3 linked regions of the Homo sapiens genome follow. The protein of the gene in region 3 interacts with the protein of the main gene of each other region in a biochemical or structural test. Each region holds a gene or a part of one and is shown on either strand. Other genes may lie near its edges.

Region 1 (7,109 bases), on a different chromosome or scaffold from region 3:
CAACACTCTAAGGAGGGAGAGCCGTGAGATAAACTGAGAAAGAAACAAAAATAATAATTACAGATTGAGGTCAGCATTACAAAGGAAATAAGTGGAGTGACATTAAGAGAGAGAAGAGGTGGCTCTAGCTAGGATGGTCACCTTCTCCAAGGAGCTAGCATTTGAAGGGAGAGCTGAAGGAGGAGGAGCCAACTTTTCAAAAAGCGCGCGGGACAGCGCATCAGGCAGAGAGGACTGCATGCGCAGAGGCCCTGAGGCCGCACCCAGCTTTGCTCACCCAAGGGCCCTACCCCTCAGCCTCCCTTGTCCCTTCCGCTGACCCTTTCCCCTCGGCCTTAGCAGGCACCCCTCGCCCTGCCCTCTGCCTTCCTTGGCAAGTTTCTACAGAGCATACGCTAATTGGAATATCCATCCCTAGGGGACTGGTTAAATGCATTAGGGTTTAATCTCAAAGTGAACTCTGATACAGCTATTAAACAAAACGTGTGATTGAGGGGAGGAGGAATTAAGGCTATTTAGACAGATGGATATCTGGTAAGGCAGATAACTTAAAATTGCCTGCCCTCAACTTTCTGGGGTGATGGTGACGTCCTGTATATTCACAGGGCTTGGGTTATGCAAGTGTCTGATTTTCCGAAAACTAAGAGAATGTACACTTAAGATGTGTTCATTCCATTGTATTTGCCCTCCCTCAATTAAAAAAGAAACATAAAATATTGAACCCTAGGTAACGATCTGCTTGCAGAAATGTTTAGGAGTGATGGGAACTGAGGACTGTAATCTAATTTGAGAGCATCCCAAAAATAACACTGACCGATGGACGAACAGAGCGAGAGGGATGGATAAAAGGATAGACAGCCAGATAGACACAGTTGATTTCTGTCATTCTCTGCAGTTCTATAAAGTCAACGAAAACACTGAATTAGCAATATAGAACTATCCCTCCTAGGGGAAATACAGAGTTAGGTTCCTAGGAAACTGTTTACATTTTCATCAACTGATCAAGACATAACCTTGTTTTTTTGTGAGTTTCTGTTTAAAGGCACCTTATTTAATAGACATGGTTGATTCACTAACATTGAACTCTTAGCCAACAGCACTATAACTATAAGCTTATCTGACATGTTTTCTCCATAAGGCACATACAGCATTCTTGCCCTTAGGAATGCTAGATAGCATTTCAGCACTATGGTTGGGGGCCATGTCAACCACTGAAATCACCAACAAAAAGCACAAACATTCAAAATATGTGAGGCCGAGTGCAACGGCTCATGCCTGTCATCCAGCACTTTGGGAGGCCAAGGCGGGTGGATCACTTGAGACCAGCAGTTCGAGACCAGCCTGGCTAACATGGTGAAACCCCGTCTCCACCATAAATACAAAAAATTAGCCAGAGGTGGTGGCGGGCACCTGTAATCCCAGCTACTTGGGAGGCTGAGGCAGGAGAACCTCGTGAACCCAAGAGGCGGAGATTCCATTGAGCCGAGATCAGGCCACTGCACTCCAGCCTGGGCAACAAGCGCGAAACTCTGTCTTTAAAAAGATAAAATAGGCCGAGCGTGGTGGCTCACGCCTGTAATCCCAGCACTTTGGGAGGCCAAGGCAGGTGGATCACAAGGTCAGGCATTCGAGACCATCTTGGCCAACACAGTGAAACCCCGTCTCTACTAAAAATACAAAAAATTAGCCGGGCATGGTGGCAGGTGCCTGTAATTCCAGCTACTCGGGAGGCTGAAGCAGAATTGCTTGAACCTGGGAGGCGGAGGTTGCAGTGAGCTGAGATCGCGCCACTGCCACTGCACTCCAGCTGGGGCGACAGTGCGAGACAGCAATCTCAAAAAAAAAAAAGATAAAATAAAAAAACAAAATATGTGGCACCACCAAATAGAACATGAAAAAGATTGGCCGGCTGCGGTGGCTCACGCCTCTAATCCAGCATTATGGGAGGCCGAGGCGGGTGGATCACAAGGTCAGGAGACCAAGACCATCCTGGCTAACACAGTGAAACCCTGTCTCTACTAAAAATACAAAAAAAAAAAAAAAAAAAAAAAAATCAGCCAGCCATGGTGGCGGGCGCCTGTAGTCCCAGCTACTCGGGAGGCCAAGGCAGAAGAATGACATGAACCCAGGAGGCAGAGCTTGCAGTGAGCTGAGGTCACGCCATTGCACTCCAGCCTGGGCGACAGAGTGAGACTCTGTCTCAAAAAAAAAGAACATGAAAAAGACACTTATCTGCAGCATGAGAGTGTTTGCCTTGTGCAGCCTCGGTGGGAAAATGTGTATCGAGTGATTCATATTTTTGCCACTCTGTATGTCTGAGAATGACCACAAAAGTGCCATGTTGGTTTTAGGGTTTCAGATAAATTTAACAAGTAGGCAAACTCACAAATAAGAACTCCGCAGTGTTGATCAACTGTATGTGATAAAGCAATTATAGCAAATCATAAACTGGAGAATCTAGCAGGTGAGTTATTGGTGTACAGTTAATTCTTTCTATTTTCTGCATATTTGTAAGTTTTCATAGAATGTTGGGAAAAAATACCTCTCCATAGCGGTTCTGAGTTGTTTCTCTACTAACATAGGCCCAGCAAGGCTACTCAGGCATAAGTTTGCATTGGAGAATTGACTTTGAGTGCCCTTCTTAGTTATGCAAATGCAACCAAGGGGTAAAATGAATGCTTTTGTGAAAGCTCCCTCTGCCCTGGGTGTCCAGAGATGGGCTCTGGAGCTGAAAGGAAGGTACTGGAATGGGAATCAGGTGAAGTCTGGGTCAGAGTAGCTAGAGGAGGGGCCAGGATCTGCACTGTAACCCGATTGATTGTGACAGTGAGGTTGGGAGGGCCAAGCTTGAGGGGGGTCCTGGATGTCCCAACAGTTACAGACAGGTGGGTGTTCCAGAGATTCATAAGGGACTGCATTTGTGGCTCCACCTGGAGAAAAAGGTCACCATTCCACAAGAGTGTTTTTAAAAAGTCATGAAGCGGCTGGGCGAAGTGGCTCACGCTTGTAATCCCAGCACTTTGGGAGATCAAGGCGGGTGGATCACATGGGGCCAGCAGTCTGAGACCAGCCTGGCCAACATGGTGAAACCCCGTCTCCATTAAGATACAAAAATTAATGGCTGGGCCCGGTGGCCCACACTTTGGGAGGCCGAGGCAGGCGGATCACCTAAAGTCAGGAGTTTGAGACTAGCCTGGCGAACATGGTGAAACCCCGTCTCTATTAAAAATACAAAAAAATTAGTCGGGCGTGGTGGTGGGCGCCTGTAGTCCCAGCTCCTCAGGAGGCTGAGGCAGGAGAATCGCTTGAACCCAGGAGGTGGAAGTTGCAGTGAGCCGAGATCGCACCACTTCACTCCAGCCTGGGCAACAGAGCAAAACTCCATCTCAAAACAAAACAAAACAAAACAAAACAAAAAAACCCATGAAGGCTCCTAGGTATTCACTCTAAAGAAATGGAAATTTACATTCACACAAAAACCTACACAGGAACATTTATAGCCGTACTAGCCACAGTTGCCAAAAATTAGGAATAACTTACATGTTTCCCAACAGATGAATAAGATACACTGTGGGACATGCCTACAGTGGAATTCTACTCCGCGGTAAGTGGAACAGCATACGGAGACACGCAGTTCCGCAAACGCATCGCAAAGGCCTCAGGCTGGATGAAAGAAACCAGGTTCCAAGGGCTACGAATTGTGTGATTCCACACACAACTATAGGGACGGAAAACGCACCAGAGGTTGCTGGGTGCTGGGGGCCGGAGAAGGAGTGACGACAGAGGGCAGGACGGAATTTGGGGGAATAGTCTGTATCTTGATTGATGTGGTGGTAGTCTCTGGGCTGTATGCATTTGTCAAATCTCAGAATTTTTCACTAAAATGATATAAAAATTTTATTGCATGTAAATTATACCCCAAATTTTTAATTAAGGGGGAAAGGAACTGGAAGATACAGACACAATGGACACTAAAAATGCTAATGAAAATAGGAAAAGTGATTAAGGGCTGTCTACACTCCTGTCCCTATGTCCTTGACTCCCAGCCTCTCAGCCAGACCTGGTCTGCGCCCCCCCCCCAGGCTGTTCTCCAGCACTGATAGCACCCCTGGCAGTCTGTAGGCACCAGACAAGCACTCTGTGACCTCCTCAATCCTGGGCCCCCTGAATGGCCGACACCTATGACTCCTCCCTCCTGCTTGAGCCCCACAGACCTCTCTGGTCCTTCACAAACTCCCTGGCTTGCCTCTGCCCTCTGACCATCCTGCTCACTCTCCTTCCCCCACCCCCGTCCCCTTACTTGGGTCATCCTGTCAGTAGCTGTACATGCTGCCACACCCACCTCTCCCAGAGCCCAGATCTCTCGCCCGACTGAGGTCGGTTGGTGCTGGCATCATCTCCTTTGATCTCCACCAACTGTTTCCATTAATACAACCAACCTAAGATCCAGATGGCATGCTCATGCTGCCTGTGGCTGGCTGAACCTCACAGTCTATTTCCACAGAGCTGAGCCCCAGAGTCTGCAAGTTGCTCCTTGGCAATTCTTCCCCAAGGCCTCCCTTGCTCAAGACCCTAATGGCTACTGCATTGGATCTCCCCAGCCCTCTGCCCCAGCTGAGCTGTGCTACTTGCCTTCCTTCAAATGGATGTTCATACTTTCATCCACACAGCACCCTCCACCTAGTGCACCCTTCCCTCTCCCCTCCATCTTCTCCAACCCAGCCAGCCCATCCTTGAAGACTCATGGAGCCACTCCCATAAAGCATGAGGATGCAGGATGAGGCAGAAAACTGAGGGCTTGTCCAAGGACCATGGGTGCAGAGTAGCAAAGCTGGTCTCTGGGGCAGGAAGCTGTGGCAGGAAACTGTCGCCAACACAGTTTGAGAAGCTCCTCCCCACGTGGCCGCAGGTGCAGCCTGGGTAGCTAGAAGTGGGTTAGGGCAGAAGAGGAGATGAGGGAGGCTCAGTGCCCAGCCCAGGGCTGCCATCCATGACCCGAGGCTAAGGAGTCCCAGAGGCAGGCTCTCTTCCTGTGCATCTCGGCTGCGTCCCAGCTTCCCTGTCCCACTGCCCACAAGGACAACGGTAATCACAAGCACCACCCCACACACACAGGTCGGGTGGTGGGCGCCTCCTCTTCCACCCCTGGGGCCTTTCTGGACTGTCCTCACTAGTAAAACATGGGGCCCAAGTTCCCAGGGACCCCATGGCCAGAGATGCTGGGGAGGCCAGAGAAGGTGGGCAGAGGTGGCAGAGATGAAAAGTCCGGGGGCAAGAGGTGGGAGCATTTGCCACGCAGCGGCTAGCCGGAGTGTCTGCTGTCAGTGAGCTGCACCGATCTAGAGCTCCCCGGGGTGACCCCAGACCCCAGGCAGGGGATCAAATGTTTCTGTTCTCAGCTGTGTCCCTGCAGACTCGTGGCCCTCCCAGAAGACACACCCACCATGAGACCCACCCCAGCCCTCGACCTGCCTGGGCCATCCCGACGGACAGGACTTGGGTTAGGAGCCGCGTCCCTCAGTCCCCAGTGAGCCTGTTCATTCCCCAAGCCTGGCCTATGGTTCTCCCTAGGCTGACCCCAGTCAGCTTCCTCTTGAGCTCACAGTTCAGAGATCCTAGTTTGGCCTTCCCAGAACTTACAGCCCCTGGATCACAGCACAGAGATCACAGCAGAGCAGCCACGGGGCACCTGCCCCACACTCACAGCCCAGGCCCTGGGAGGATGATGGGAGGAAGCCTTGGAGCCTGGTCAGAAGGACCTGCCTGGAATCCCACCATTCACCCAGCCTCCCTGGGTAAAGGCAGTGCTAGATTACAGCTGTTCCAGAGAGATCAGATTCCCCAAACATGCTTCAAAGGAAAAAAGAGTCAAGGGGTCAAATACAGTTTCAAATGCTGTGAAAAGCACATTAAAGGCTCCGAGAAGACCACATGGAAGGACCTCTTTCAGCGTCACTTAATTCCCACACCTATTCAGCAAAGCCTTGAAGGTCTACTGTTTCACAGAACATTCCCTGGGCATCAGAAGCCCCCATTACATGCCCATCGTCAGAGCAGAGGTATCACACCAAAGCCACTGGACCTGGTGGGAGCGGGCAGGAGCAGCACAAGCTCCACATGTCCCCCCAGCCAGAGGCTCCACGTGTCCCCCCAGCCAGAGGCTCAGAGGCTCCTCGTGTCCCCCCAGCCAGAGGCTCCACATGTCACCCCAGCCAGAGGCTCAGAGGCTCCGCATGTCCCCCCAGCCAGAGGCTCCGCATGTCTCCCCAGCCAGAGGCTCCGCATGTCCCCCCAGCCAGAGGCTTGACATGTCCCCATCCAAGGCTCTGCAGGAGCAGGGCCCCAGCCCCTCACCGCCCCACCTCCTCCTACTGCCCCCCCACCACCCTGTTCCCACTCCAGCTCCTGGCTCTCTCTCTCTGAACCCCTAGTCCTCACCTGAGACCCTAAGTCCCTCTGAAGCCATGTTCCCTGCTCCTTAATCCCCCAGCTGTGCTCGGGCCGCCTGTGCCCACCAACAGAGGCAGCATAGGCACTGGTCGTCAGCACACGCCAGCTTGGTGACGCCATGAGCCACACAGCCGCAGTTAGCCATGGCTGCAGGCTCCTCCTTCATATGTCTTTCCTGACTGCAGGGATTGGATTCAAATCATGGAATCGTGGACCCACCACATGGTCACAGTGCAGCCTCAGCAGCGAGTGAAGCTCGCCAGACCTCCTCCGGAAAGCAGGGCCAGTGAAGGTGTCCAGCACTGGGGCTGCAGGGACTCCCTGGGGTGAGACTTGCTGGCCCCCGTCATGCCATCACATCCTCTTCTCTGCTTGAAGCCCTCTAGGCTCCCACCTCACTCGGGGTGAAAATGCAAGTCCTCAGGGTGGCCCCCAAGGCCCTTCATGATGCCCATCACCACCCCCCGCCACTCACTCCCCTCCAGCCACACGGGCCTCCTCATGTTATTCGTTCAGGTCCCTCGGACAAACCAGGCATGGTGCAGCCTCAGGGCCTTTGTACTGTCTGTTCCCTCTGCCTGGAGACTCTTCCTCCAACACCTTCCACTTTATTCAGGTCTCTGCCTAAGTCACCTCCTCCAGGAGGCCTTCCCTGACCT
Region 2 (7,109 bases), on a different chromosome or scaffold from region 3:
ACAGGGTCTTGCTCTGTCACCCAGGCTGGTGTGCAGTGGCATGATCTCAGCTCACTGCAGCCTTGACCTCTTGGACTCAAGTGATCCCCCCACCTCAGCGCCCCCATGTAGCTGGGACTACAGGTGCACACCACCAGTCCAGGCTAGTTTTTTTTTTTGGTATTTGTCATAGAGGTGGGGTTTTGCCATATTGCCCAGGCTGGCTTCAAACTCCTGAGCTCAAGCAATCCACCCACCTTGGCTTCCCAAAGTGCTGGAATTACAGGCATGAGTCATTGCACCCAACCCAGCATGAGTTTTTTAAACAAATACAATGATATGTTACATCTTGCTTTTTCACTAGTAGAACTTGGACATTGTTATATTTGGTGTATGAAATAAATTCCACATTTTTTAGAAGACTGCATAGGATTCCAACATATGAATCAACTGTACTTCCCTTAGTGATTTTTTTTTGCTATTATAAAATAAAATGTTGCAATGAATATTTCTCCACTTTTGTCAATTTATATGTGTGATAGGTTCCTAAAAGTGAAGTTGTTGAGTGAAAGCACTTGTGTTTTAAATTTTAAAAGATATTACCAAACGGCCCTGTCAGCACCCATCTGTGTCTTTTTTCTTATTGATTTGAAAAAACTCGCTGCATATTAAAGCTATTGATGCTTTACCACAAGTATTGAAATTAAATATATCTTACCATTTTTTTCACTTATTTGTATATTTTTTCATTTTATGGGGATTTGCTTAAAATTTTAGGAAATCATGCTTATCAATCTTGTGATGAGTGTGAATATAAATTCATATGTTTTATCACATTTAGACAGGCCTCTTCACAATTATTTTAAAACTCACCTAAGTTTTCTTTTAATAGCTTCATTATTTCAATGCTATATTTTTATTCTTTGTTCAGCTTGGAATTTATTTTGATATAAAGAGCAAAGTTTTGTTTTTTTTTCCAAACGATTTGCCGTTTTCCCAAGACCATTCATCCATGGCCCTGCACCTCCCCCGCCTGGTGTGCAAAGCCTCCCTTGGACCCATGCCTGCATATTATCTGGGTCTGGGCTCTACTCCCCACAGCAGCTTCACTTTACAATTTTGTGGAGTTTGTCTCCCTTAACACCTTTATCTTACATTTCTTCCCTGAGTCTTCTCATAAGTCTCTCTCTCTTTAAGTTTTTGCACATCTAAAGTGAAAGAAACACTTTACCGTAAGTATTTTAATGTGCTTAATTGTGTTTGGTCTTCACACTGACAGAGTTCTGGAATCATCTGTACAGCAGGCTCATTTCAGGGGCCTTAGACATCTGTCCATCTCCATATCTGGAGAGCTCCCTGGTGCTCTTGATGGCATCACAGAAAGGCCATCGTGGGGAGGTGCCAGTCTTCACTCACACATTTGTTACAGGTTGAATTGTGTCCCCCCAAGTTCAAATGTTGATGTCCTAACTCCCTAACCCCTCTGAGTGTGACCTTATTTAAAGACAGGGTCTTTACAGCAGTGATTACGCCCCATTGAAGTCCTTAGGGTGAGCCCTACTCCAACATGACTGGTGTCCTTACATGAAAAGGAGATCTGGACCCAGAGACAGGCACACAGGGAGCATGCCATGTGGAGCTGGAGATGGTCACCCACAAGCCAAGGAGATGCTGGGGGCACATTGTCCCACCCAACCCTTGGAAGGAGCCACCCTGGGACATCCTGACCTCAGTCTCTTTGGCTCAGAGTTGGGAGGCGACACATTGGGCTGTTCAAGCCGTTCAGTATGTGGTGCTTTGTTATGAAAGCCTGATCGGACTGATACTCCATTCCTCCATAACAGACACTGACACAGCTTCCAGAGTCTTCTGAGAAGAAACAAGCTCCGGGGAATACCTTACACACTGCTGGCTTCTTTGGGGAAATCATCCCTCACAAACGCTTGCCTTTCTAGCCTGAGCCCTTCTCCCCAGCTGCCAAGCTGCCTTTCCTTGACCAAATCATTGAAGTCCCACCTGCCTCACAAACATTTCCATAACAGGAGGGAAACGGGTCTGAGATCTGTCCACACCTGTCCACTCCCAACCCTCACGACAGCAACACAAGCAGAGAGCAGCAGTTCTGCCCCGTAGGGGGACAGCCACAGACATGGAGGTCTGATGTGGGAAGGACAGAGACACTCACAGCTAGGGGCTCGGCACTCACTTTCCACGAGGCTCTAGTTCACTCTGGATAGTAAATTTATCTCTATGGAAGGAAGGCATGCATAAAAGCTTCAGCTCTTCTCACTTGAGTCTCTCATTGGTTTGGGATTGTGTCTAATTCCTATTGTATATGCTTAACTTCTCAATGCAAAAGCCACAAAGATCAAAACAAGTTTTGTGTAACCATTGGTGATGAGTAAAATTGGCATGTCTGACACTGAGCCTGTGTCCTCCCTCTGCCTCTCCAGGCTTTCCTGAGCTGCTGACAGGACTCCAAACCTGCCCACCAATTAGGCAGGACAGCAGATCCTCTTTTACGCCTTATTAGAGTAGTGGATAGGGATTCTGGTTCTGGATTAGAAACACCTAGTTTTGAGAGTTCTAATCCCAGCAGCATCACTCAGTGGTTGGACAAATCCCTTCACCTTTCTGAGCCCGTTTCTAATCGGGTTGAATTAGATACTCTGCATATTTAAACAGGCTTCTAAGAATCTATGAATTTGGACCCTCGGTATCCTAATAAGCAGGACAGACTTCATGACAGAGCTACAAGATCACCAGCAGTGATTTGGGGAACCTAACGCCAAGGCCTGCGATGCAGCCTGCTCTAGCCAGGCTCTTCCTGAGCCCTCACTGTGAGTTCCTTCACGTAGCCATGACCATCAGCTGATTGGTGTTGTTAACCAAAAGGAAGTGGTGGCCTTCCACCTCAAGCATATGCACAGCTATAAATGCAGAGAAGGGGAAGAAACATGAAAAACAGTATTACAGAAAATGAAGTCATAGCACGCTGAGGATCTGAGGAGATGTTCCATGAGTAGCTTGGCAATGAATGCTCTCCTTGAAAGGCATGAAGCAGGTCAGGCTCACACTGAAGGGGGCAATCACAGTCCCCCTGTGCAGGCAGGCAGCAGTGTGGGGGGTGCAAGGTGGGAGAAGACCAAGGGTGGAGTGCCTTAGAAGCGACAGAGACCTGAGGGAGGAACAGGGAGGAGCGGGAGGACAAGGGAAGAGTAGATGCTCCCCAGCTCCAAGAAAGCAGCAGAAGACGCCTCGCAGGAAAAGACAGGTGTGTGGCTTCGTTTGAATAGGGAAGGCATGGCCATACCCACAAAGAACAGGGAGTTCCTGCCACCCACACACCACACAGACCAGTTATGGGCCCATCCTGCCCTGTGCACATCCAGGTCTTGCCCTCCTCCTATCTCATGTGGGACAGGCTGCAAGAATGCAGCCTTAAAAGACTAATGCCTAGGGTACCTAAAAAAAAAAAAAAACCAACACACACGTGGAAATACCCAGCACATCAGGAAAGCTGACAGCAGGAGAGAGAGGCACCAAGCATGCAAGCAGATGAACTGATACCCCGGGAGACGGGGGTAATGGTGCACTCAAACAAGTAATAAAATACACAGAAAACTAATACATCACTTAAAAAAATCCCAAAGAAGTAACTACATTCCTTGGAAATTAACCACCTGCTTGCTAAAATAATCATAGGAAAACTAAGTGGATGGACTGAAGAACAGGATGGACAGGGATGAAGGGCTTCCTTGAGATAAAGATTAACCTGATGGTTTCATGAAAACACAGTGCAAATGGCAAAGGAGAGGGAAAGAATGAAAAGAAAAAGTGCATTCATTGCAGCACTGTTTATAATATCAAAAATTAAAAAAAATCGACATGCCTATTCTGGACTGTCATAAAAATTACAATAATCACTGAATATGGAGACCTCCCCGCACCCCAACATATTAATAAAAAGAAAGTTCCAGAGTGATAAAGGTATTAAGAAGACATACACAGCCCACCATTATATCTTCTGAAGACGTGCACACATGCACACATGAATGCACAGGACGAAAGAAGAGAGGTTAGAGCTCCAACTGCTCCCCAACAGTGGGACTGGGGGCAGGGCTGGGACTGAGGGTGGAGGTTAAGAAGGGCTTTTCTGTTGCTCGCTGTATCTGAATCCTGTACTAAAGGATATGTACTCGTGTATCAGTTATGCAATGGACAACTTTCCTAAAAGAAAATATTAGAAAGTTCTCCCATCTTGGAGGTCAGAGAAACTAACTTTGGCAATTGTAGTTGCTCATCAAACCTATCTGGACGTGCCTTCCCTCCAAGACTGCAGGGCAGATTCCCAGAGTCAGCCCGCCTGGGAGAGGCTCTGACAGTTATGTCAGTTTTAACCACATACCAGGTACCGAGCACTGCAGGCACGGTCTCCATTAGGTATCAGAGTGAAGCCCCCTGTGACTGCTCCATTTACAAAAGAAGAGCTTACAAATAAAGAAGGGGGACTTGAACCCAGTGGGGCCTCAGACCCTTACTCTCAACCCGTAGCTACAAAAATATTCGATAAATGTCACTTTGAGGCAGTGTATCCACCACATAATTCATATATTGTTAGCATTTAAGATGAAAACAACCACAACATTCTGCCTCTACCAAGCAAAGCCTAAGGAGCTTGGTAAGGAGCAGCAAGAGGTCATGCATGGTTTCCCAAAGAGGCTGTGGCAGAGCCAGCCCTGAAAGCCACTCTAAGAACAAACGCACTGCAGGGTCATGGAAGTGTAGGACCACTGGCTGAGACTGACTCTCTCAGAGAATCTCTGTGCATGTTACCTGCACAAAGGCTCTGAAGATGCCCATGATATTTATCCCTGCTTGCTGCACTTTATTTCATTCAGCATTTCTCATGCTTACTTACTTGAGCAAGCTTCCCAGGGAATTCCACTTAGCACTGCAGTTCCACTTCAGGAATCAATCAAGGAAATCGAGGAGAAGGCCAGCAATCTGCTTAAAGTCTCATGAGATCTCCATTTCCACAAAAATAAACATTCTCATCACTCAGATAATAAAATGTTGGTGTCGTATATAATACAAAAGTGACATTGACACTGATGTAAAACATAGATGCTAACTGTTAAAGTGGAGTTAAAAACCATCTCTCACTAAGCATGATTCAGAATGCACCCTGATGGAAGAAATCATAAAAGTTCTATACTACAATAAATAAATAACCATAGAATTAAAAAGCTCTGGAGAAATATTTTCAATAATTATGACAGTGGATTTACAACAGGTAAAATGTAGGTGAGTGTTAACAAGAGGCATATTAATGCCACAGATGTTACAACAAAGAGTATGATAAGCAATTTACATAAAACATATTTAGTCAACAAATATTCCCCATAGGGCTGGGCACAGTGGATCATGCCTATAATCCCAGCACTTTGGGAGGCTGAGGCAAGAGGATTGCTTGGGCCCAGGAGTTTGAGACTAGCCTGGGCAATATAGTGAGAGCCCATCTCTACAAAAAAGAAAAAGAAAAAAAAAAAAGAAAAGTCCCACACCAAATATCCTCCAAACATTCTTCAGGTATTACTGTATGTATAGCAAGACTGAAGAGCAACTGTTAGACAAGAAGAAGATGGAGGGTTCTAGAAAAAAAGAAAGAAAAATGGAACCGTGAGATTACTTGGTATATCTGACACTGTAGAAAATTGTGTCAATAGGGCTTTCATCTTTATGTCAGAAAGTTGGGAAGGAAATGATAATAGGCACAGTGCAAACTAAGAAAACACAAAAACAAAGCAAGGGTTTACCCCAGGAAGAGCAAAAAGGGGTACGAGATAGAAAATGGAATGATATACCTTGCTTTAGCAGTAAACTATATTTATATAACCATAATAAAATAAACCAAATAACTTCTTAATCTCAAATGAGAGAATAATTATCCTGGGATGGTGTGAGAAGGAGTAGAAGGTGATGGTGGTCTAAAACTCCAAAGTCCTGAATTCTCAGTGTCAACAAACACTGTTTAAAATTAGTACACCAAAAAACTTTGAAAATATGCCAATCATAAGGAAATAGTGAGAATTCTAGAGGACATAACTCAAAGCAGTACCAAAGGATGGGCAGAATGAAAAGAGGAACTCATTACAAATTAAAATTAAACAAAAAGAGAAATTAACTTAGGTCACACCAAAACATTTTCATGTCAACTCAACAGGAACTGATAGATGTAATATTAATAAACTACCAGGTTGACCATGGGAAAATAAAGATTTATCAGTTAAGACAAACCAATGGAGGGGAGAAATGAAAGGTCATATGTTGAACATTCAAATGCTACTTATAGTCAGGCAGAGTATACTTAAGTAAAGCAATATTTAAACTGTGGATATTCCTAAATCTCTGCCCTGGGCCCTCCTTCTGTTGAATTTACTTTCTCTCCCTAGTTCACAGTATCCAGGTCGAGAGCCTCCCTCACCCTGCTCGGTAGACCTGCAGCTTGCCTGCAAGGTTTTCACTCAGGTCAAGACATCTCTCATCTGCATCCCAGGCTAAAAGCCCACTGTCTCCTCACACTTATGCTCCCTTCCAGCGCTCCAGGACAGCAGTAACTGGAAGCGCCTCTCCAGCTCAGAGCCAGGATCCCAGTTTCAGAGCTAGACACCTCTGAGCAGAGGACCAGAAAGCTCACAGTACTCCTCAGTAATCCAGTAATCATCAACATTCTTAACTGTCCTCGCTTGCTCCACCACCATCTGCCTTTGGCCAGCTGCCAGAAATCAATACGTGGTGTCCCAGAAAGAAAAGAATCAAGGGAGCCATTTGGATTTATTAAATGTACTGTAACATAAACAAAATATTCTTTCTTTGCATATCTTTGGTCTTGGCTAAATTCAACTGTCTTTAAGATTCCAGTTTAACCACCTTTTAAGAGATGTAGGGCAAACCTTGCACAATTGATTCATAAAGGAAAAAAAAACCTCAAATTGATACAAGCTAATATTGGTCAGATAAAATTATAAGCAAATAGAAAATGTCCCTGATAACATCATATCAAAATGAATGAACTTTCCTAAAATCCAATCAGACTAGTTCTTAAAACATCTTCCCACAATCCCTCA
Region 3 (7,318 bases):
TCTACTCTCTCAAGTGAGCAGACCAACCTCTGCTTGATATGGAATTGTACTGGCCTAAGAAGACTGTCTCCTAGGGAATATTTTCACCTTGTACTTACATTTAGTTCAGTTAGAAAATATAACTGACCAGGTGTGTTTCCTCACACCTGGAGCCCCAGCACTTTGGGAGGCAGAGGTGGGTGGATTGTTTGAGTCTAGGAGTTCAGGACCAGTCTGGGGAGCACAGCCCCATCTGTATATGAAAGAATTAAAAAATTAAGCCACCTACAATAACTATGTAATCATGTCAGTAATTGTTTAAATGTTTTCCACCCTTGAGCCAAGAGAATGCCACATGAATTCAAGAGTAATCCATCCAGTTTGCTGCTTGGACCTGAAAGCAGGGTGAGATTTGGGGTGACTGAGACATGGGAAGCTTTTCTAGGCTTCATTCTAGCAATTTAAAACTAGATTCTCATTGGTGTTTTGTAGCATACAAGGAATCTTGGAGCCAAAAATATTATTCCAGTCACCAGTGCCTAAAAATGCTTTAGAGATTTCTATTTTTGCCCCTCCCTCCCCCCAAAAAAAACAAAACAAAAGACTATCTGCTTCAGCTATGACTACCTAGAAAATGTGACTGTGCCTACTGTGGGCCTCTGTTGAACCATCTTGCAGCCCCCAAAGTTCTGTTGCCAGGCAGCACTTGTGTCCTTCCAAGCACTTACTGCCCATACGTAAGCCCTTGCCTTGTCTGTCCCTGCTTACAAGGGCTTCGCAGCAATCTTGAAGGCCCTCACAAGTTTCTTGTGCCTTTTGCTTATTGACATTCATGGGTACAGTCCTGCCTCTATAGAAACAACCACTGACCTATGAACAAAGCCACCACAAGTCGTGTCACAAAACCATATGCCCTAAGACTGCAAGCATCTTGCCCAGGCTCAGTAGTTAAGTATAAAAGGTGGCTCAGAATAGGCCTCTACAATCTGGAAAATGCCCGTCTCTCTTACTAAACAAATCCCAAGGCTGAGAATGACAGGATCTCTTCCCACCAAAAGCCTCTCCTTGTAAATATATAGCTCTCATACATTTGTTCTTTTGTTTTTAGTTCTTTTACATCTAAACCCATGCCCCAATTGTTTGTGTCTCTGAAAATTTGCTCTGGAACTTTAGACTCCCTCACTCCCTCCCCACTTAAATCTCCACACAGGGGAAGGCGTATACTTGTTCATAAACCCTTCTGCCAGTAGAGTTGCATCCAGGGGGAAGAGCATGGAGTTAAGTTTAGCATGGGGCCAGGTGCGGTGGCTCATGCCTGTAATCCCTGCACTTTGGGAGGCCGAGTGGGTGGATCATGAGGTCAGGAGATCGAGACCATCCTGGCCAGCATGGTGAAACCCAGTATCTACTAAGAATACAAAAATTAGCTGGGCGTGGTGGCACGTGCCTATAGTCCCAGCTACTCGGGAGGCTGAGGCACCAGAATCGCTTGAATCCAGGATGCAGAGTTTGCAGTGAGCCGAGATTGTGCCACTGCACTCCAGCCTGGGCAACAAAGTGAGACTCTTTCTCAAAAAATTATAGTAATAATAATAATAAGTTTATCATGACTCAATTATTCTTCCCAAATTTACTGATCACATAAGGCACGTCACTTCTTCCAGGATGGAGTGAGTTAAGGAGCAGAAGGAGGAACAGGAGTAGGAGTTGCATGCACATGGAAGAAAATAGATGTCCCCCCAACACAACCATTCATTAATATATTCAGGCAAATGAAAAGTTATTCTGTTCAATTAGATTTGGCGTATTTAGCAAATAAAAATATGGGACTCCTAGTTACATTTGTATTTCAGATAAACAGTGACTACTTTTTAAATGCAATTATATCCTGATATGGCTCCATGTCTCCACCCAAATCTCATCTTGAACTGTACTCCCATAACTCCCATGTGTTGTGGGAGGGACCCAGTGAGAAATAATTGAATCCTGGGGACAGTTTTCTCCATACTGTTCTTCTGGTAGTGAGTAAATCTCACGAGATCTGATGGTTTGATAAGGGGAAACCCATTTCGCTTGGCTCTCATTCTCTCTTTGCCTGCTGCCATTCATGTAAGATGTGACTTGCTCCTCCTTGCCTTCTGCCATGATTGTGAGGCCTCCCCAGCCATGTGGAACTGTAAGTCCAATAAACCTCTTTATTTTGTAAATTGCCCAGTCTTGTTACGTCTTTATCAGCAGCATGAAAACGAACTCATACATATCCCAAGTATTGTATGGAACATAATTATAGTAAAAATTATTTGTTTTTTATTTGAAATACAAATTTAAATGAGACCCTTGCATTTTATCTGGCAATCCTCTACTGAGTGTTAGGCACTGTGCTAGGTGCTAGAATAATGTGAATATGACATAGTTCCTGTCTTCAGAGAGAGACGTAGAAAAATGTAACATTTTTGGCTACAGATGAGCAATTAAATTCAAAATACTCTTTTCTGAGCATATCTTTCCAACCACAGGAAACAATACTTCAGAGTCATCAACAACATCGTCACCTTTGAGCATGAAGTATATTTGAGGTTTATTCATATTTTGAATTAGTCTGAAATGACACACTGAATCTCGAAGCTATCCATATCCCACTGAACCTTCCTTTTGTTGATGAGCATGCTGTCCTCAGAGAAATAAAAAATAAGCCCTAACCGCTCCCTTCCCTAAAGATACTTAGATCATTGAGGAATACCATCAAAGGGACAGGATGTTTCAGTTCACTGTGATCGGTTCTGGAGTGAAGGAAATCCAAGTGTTATTGATGCACATGAGAGGAACACCCAGCCCAAATGTGGGAGGTCAGAGAATACCTCTCAGTAGATGTGGCACCATACTCTACAATTACAAGTTTACAAAGACCCTGTAGTGTGGATTAACTGGGTATAGTTTAAATAAATAATTTAATTTAATTTAAATAAATTGATATAACCAATATATCTTCTCCAGAATATTGGAGAAATCTCTAACCAGGAATGACTAAGCACACATTGAAACACATCCAATCCTCTTCTATTGTCATCCTGTTCCTTACTGTTTGTTGGTCGTTCATTTGGCAAGTCCTTATTGACAAATTGGTATGTGACAAGTGCTCTGTTAGGCATTGAAACAAAATGAAGAACAAACCAGGCTTGTTCCCAAACCTTGTAATACTATCTAATGAGAAAAATAGGCATTATACAATCACATAAACATATAGAGAATGATAAAATTTGGTGACTTCCATGGGAGAAAGAACATAATAATATTTGTTAAAAAAGAGGACCCTCTTTCCATTACCTGCCAAGGTTGGGCACCCTGAGGATGGGACATTTGATCTGAGATCATCTCCCATTTCTAATGTAAAGGTATCTGAATGATGACAACTTTATCCTGGTAGGTAGATTCCCAAGAATGGCTTACCTCTAAGTCTAAAACACGCCTTCCTAACAGAAGTTATATCACCTTCAAAGGGGCAAGAATTGACTCTTGGGAAGATGAAAAAAACTAATTTTTTAATGTATCAAACACAGCTATACATGCAGCACATAAACACATACATAGTATATTTGTGGTATTAAATTTTCATGGAAAAAGGGGGTGGCTAAAAACAAAATTGTCTAAAAAAGATCCTTAGGGGAGCAATAACGAAAAAATGGTTGAGAAACACTGGTTCAGAGTTTTTATTCAATAGTCCCTCAAATAATACTTACTAAAGGAATGCTTTCAAGAAAGAACAGTTAGAGGTGCGGGGGATATAAGGGGTAAGAAAAGGGGCCCTTAAATGTTAGTGGGAAAGAAGACACGAAAGCAAACAAGGAAATAGAGAAAATAATTGCAAATTGTTATAAACACTGTGAAAAAAACACAAAGGACCTGAAACAAAATAATGGGGTGGAACCTCTTTGATTGCAAAGCCCTTTCTGAGAAGGGCTTTGGCTTTAAAAACGGTGGTACGCTTGCTGATTTATCTCCTAATTTGCAGATCTGGGTGAGATTACGGGAAGTCCTTGATCTGTACATTTGTATTATTTTCCTGTTCAGAAGCCTCATAACAACTTATGTGAAAGTCAAAAAGGCATATGCTTGACACCTTGACTGTGTGATTCACACCACGCTCATTAAGCTTGCCTACATTAGGAGCTGCATGCAGAACCAAAGGCTGTGTGAAGACAAGGTAGTGAAGGGGTTTCCCATATGAAAAATACAGAAAGAATTATTTGAATACTAGCAAATACACAACTTGATATTTCTAGAGAACCCAGGCACAGTCTTGGAGACATTACTCCTGAGAGACTGCAGCTGATGGAAGATGAGCCCCAACTTCTAAAAATGTATCACTACCGGGATTGAGATACAAACAGCATTTAGGAAGGTAGCCACATTCACATTTTCAGAGCCCAAAGCAAAATATGACACTAAGCTCTTCTTCCCTTTTCTGATTCTTGCAGGTCTCATCTGAGTAGCAGCTTCCTGCCCTCCTTCTTGGAGATAAGTCGGGCTTTTGGTGAGACAGACTTTCCCAACCCTCTGCCCGGCCGGTGCCCATGCTTCTGTGGCTGCTGCTGCTGATCCTGAGTGAGTAGATGGGCTATAATGGGGCCACGGCCTCAGTTCCTAAAGGTGACCAGGGAAAAACTCAAGGAGCTTCTATCTCTGCTTCTACTTGGGGTTCAGAGACAGATAGCAAGGGATGGGAAGTGAGCAGAGCTGGGTTCCCTGGACAACCAAGAGGCTCCAAATGCAACCATCAGAGCAAGCCAGATATCCTGACCTTGGTTTCTCACCCACTGCTTTTCTCACCTCATAGGAAACTTGGATTTTTCCTTCTGCCAAACCACAACTCTATATCCCACCCTCCCTCTTAAGCCTCAGACTAAATAATTTTTCAGATGAGCAGTTACTTCTAAAAACCTAGGCACGTGAAGGAAGGTTTACTGAGAAACATCACTGTTTTCTAGAAGTTTTAAGCCAAAATTTAATCAGAGATTGAAAAAGTGAGGGGAACAATAGGAGCCCAAGGAACGAAAGGAGGATAAACCATTTCTGTAAGTCCTTGTCTGCCTCTGCACTCAGAGAAGAGAAGGAGAGAATAAAGTGTGCCGTGGCCAAGTAAATAATAGCAGAGATGAGGTCAGGCCTTGGACATAAGCCATCACGTTTGTAAAATACATTATATGACATTTTCTTTGTTGTTTAGGGGCTCTGGATGATATAAAAAGGGAGCAAAGAAATGATAAGGAAAAACAAAAGAAGTGGTTGTGGTTAGGTTGTTAGAAAATGTTTCGGAGAGTGTCTGATTGTCATTTTCTGCTCCCTCACAGCTCCTGGAAGAGAACAATCAGGTAAGTTTCTCCTTCTCTCTGCCCCTCTGGTCTCTGGATATTGGTCCCCTCAGCCCACACAGCCTGCCCTAACCCTTGCAGGCACGCATCCCATCAGCAATGCTAATGCTCTGGGGTCACATCTGCTACTATATTGGGTGAACAGAGCCTCCTCCGACTTTTTCAGTCTCTAGGTTTTTTTTTTTTTTTCTCCCTACATTACCGGTATTCCTCAGACTACAGGAAGGAAACACTTGCAGAGCAAAGGACAGAGGCAAGAGGCTGATGATGAAGGAATCTCATATGTGATCTCCATATTCTCTAGTACATCTCCCTCTGAATGTCCAAGCTAGTGCTGCTATCAAAGGACATAGAAATAGATCCCATCCACGGAGGAAGATGCTACAGCAGAATCCTTATAAATCTCCAAAAAGAGCTCATGCCACTGCCACACCTCACTTCCATGCCTGTCAGTCAGTTGCAATTCCATACACAAGTCTGACTTCTCAGGCAACCCATCCTCCTCCATTTAAATTCTTTATATCCCTCCATTGTTTACTGTGTCCAACTTAAATGGAGAGTAAAGTTGCCTTCCCCATAGACTTTCAAAGCTAAGAGAGATATAAAAGTAATACAAGTGAGAAAATCTTATTCATTTTAAGTGTTAACAAGTAGGAAGTAATTTTCTGGAGTCTAGAAACTACTTCTGAGGTATATACATCCCAGGTTCACCTTTATCTGGACAGAAATGTATAGGACAAGAGAATTTCAGGATCAGCCACATTCTGAGGCCTTCGCAGTTTTTGCCCAATGGCAAATCACATCTCCTGAGCTTTTCTGAGGCTATGCCAGGAAACTGAGACCTCTCCCCTATAATACCCTTCTGCCCACCTCCAGGAAATGGATGAGGAAGAACAGATTCTTTCCCAGGCATTTCCCTAGGTTATTTCTGCTCAATTTTCCACCCTGGTCCTGACTGGAAATTAGTCCAGGAAAACTCCTGACTGTAGGTTGGGCTCCCCATGTGCTGTGCCCACCTCCCATTGACCTTCCCCTGCCTTCATCTTTCTATTTCCTGTTTAGGGGTGGCCCCAAAAGCTGTACTTCTCCTCAATCCTCCATGGTCCACAGCCTTCAAAGGAGAAAAAGTGGCTCTCATATGCAGCAGCATATCACATTCCCTAGCCCAGGGAGACACATATTGGTATCACGATGAGAAGTTGTTGAAAATAAAACATGACAAGATCCAAATTACAGAGCCTGGAAATTACCAATGTAAGACCCGAGGATCCTCCCTCAGTGATGCCGTGCATGTGGAATTTTCACCTGGTGAGGAATGGAAGGGGAGTGTCTAAAGTCAAGCCACCAGGCAGAATGCCTGAGGGCCGGGTTAATGCAGGGATCCTAGGCAGAGTTGTAAGCAGACATGGGGATTGATGCACTGACCCCAGTGGGGAAAATAAAGAGATAGGGCAGCAGCATGATGCTGGATTGTCTATCCATCTACCTCCAAAGAATTGTGGGTGACCCAGGGGCCATCAGGCAAAAAGGGGTTCAAGTCTGGGATTCCTCTTTTGTGAAAAGACATGTGAAGATTTCTCAAGAACATTTTCTGGGAATTGGTTCACCCTTGTAGGGCAAGGAAGAATCAGGTATTTGGGGCCACATGGCAATGTGGGTGGGGGCCATTTGCAGGTGTGTATAGAACTGTGGCTCTTGCCTCATGGGTGGAAATGAAAGTGAAGGCAGAAACAGCAGGGGATAACCTGAGTGTGCTCCTGTGCTCTTTGCAGACTGGCTGATCCTGCAGGCTTTACATCCTGTCTTTGAAGGAGACAATGTCATTCTGAGATGTCAGGGGAAAGACAACAAAAACACTCATCAAAAGGTTTACTACAAGGATGGAAAACAGCTTCCTAATAGTTATAATTTAGAGAAGATCACAGTGAATTCAGTCTCCAGGGATAATAGCAAATATCATTGTACTGCTT

What was found.
Region 1: the proteins of FCRL3 (region 3) and ZAP70 form a complex in vitro, tested with the Homo sapiens proteins (one study listed by BioGRID).
Region 2: the proteins of FCRL3 (region 3) and SYK form a complex in vitro, tested with the Homo sapiens proteins (one study listed by BioGRID).

Annotation. Positions count from the first base shown.
Region 1 is NC_000002.12:97,716,525-97,723,633, reverse strand, and holds part of ZAP70 (tyrosine-protein kinase ZAP-70), read right to left. Parts: intron 1-7,109. UniProt on the Homo sapiens protein: Tyrosine kinase that plays an essential role in regulation of the adaptive immune response. Regulates motility, adhesion and cytokine expression of mature T-cells, as well as thymocyte development.
Region 2 is NC_000009.12:90,804,814-90,811,922, reverse strand, and holds part of SYK (tyrosine-protein kinase SYK), read right to left. Parts: intron 1-7,109. UniProt on the Homo sapiens protein: Non-receptor tyrosine kinase which mediates signal transduction downstream of a variety of transmembrane receptors including classical immunoreceptors like the B-cell receptor (BCR).
Region 3 is NC_000001.11:157,697,722-157,705,039, reverse strand, and holds the start of FCRL3 (Fc receptor-like protein 3 isoform 1 precursor), read left to right. Parts: upstream 1-4,270; 5' UTR 4,271-4,378; intron 4,379-4,454; 5' UTR 4,455-4,550; coding exon 4,551-4,581; intron 4,582-5,327; coding exon 5,328-5,348; intron 5,349-6,410; coding exon 6,411-6,656; intron 6,657-7,120; coding exon 7,121-7,318. UniProt on the Homo sapiens protein: Promotes TLR9-induced B-cell proliferation, activation and survival but inhibits antibody production and suppresses plasma cell differentiation. Enhances activation of NF-kappa-B and MAPK signaling pathways in TLR9 stimulated B-cells.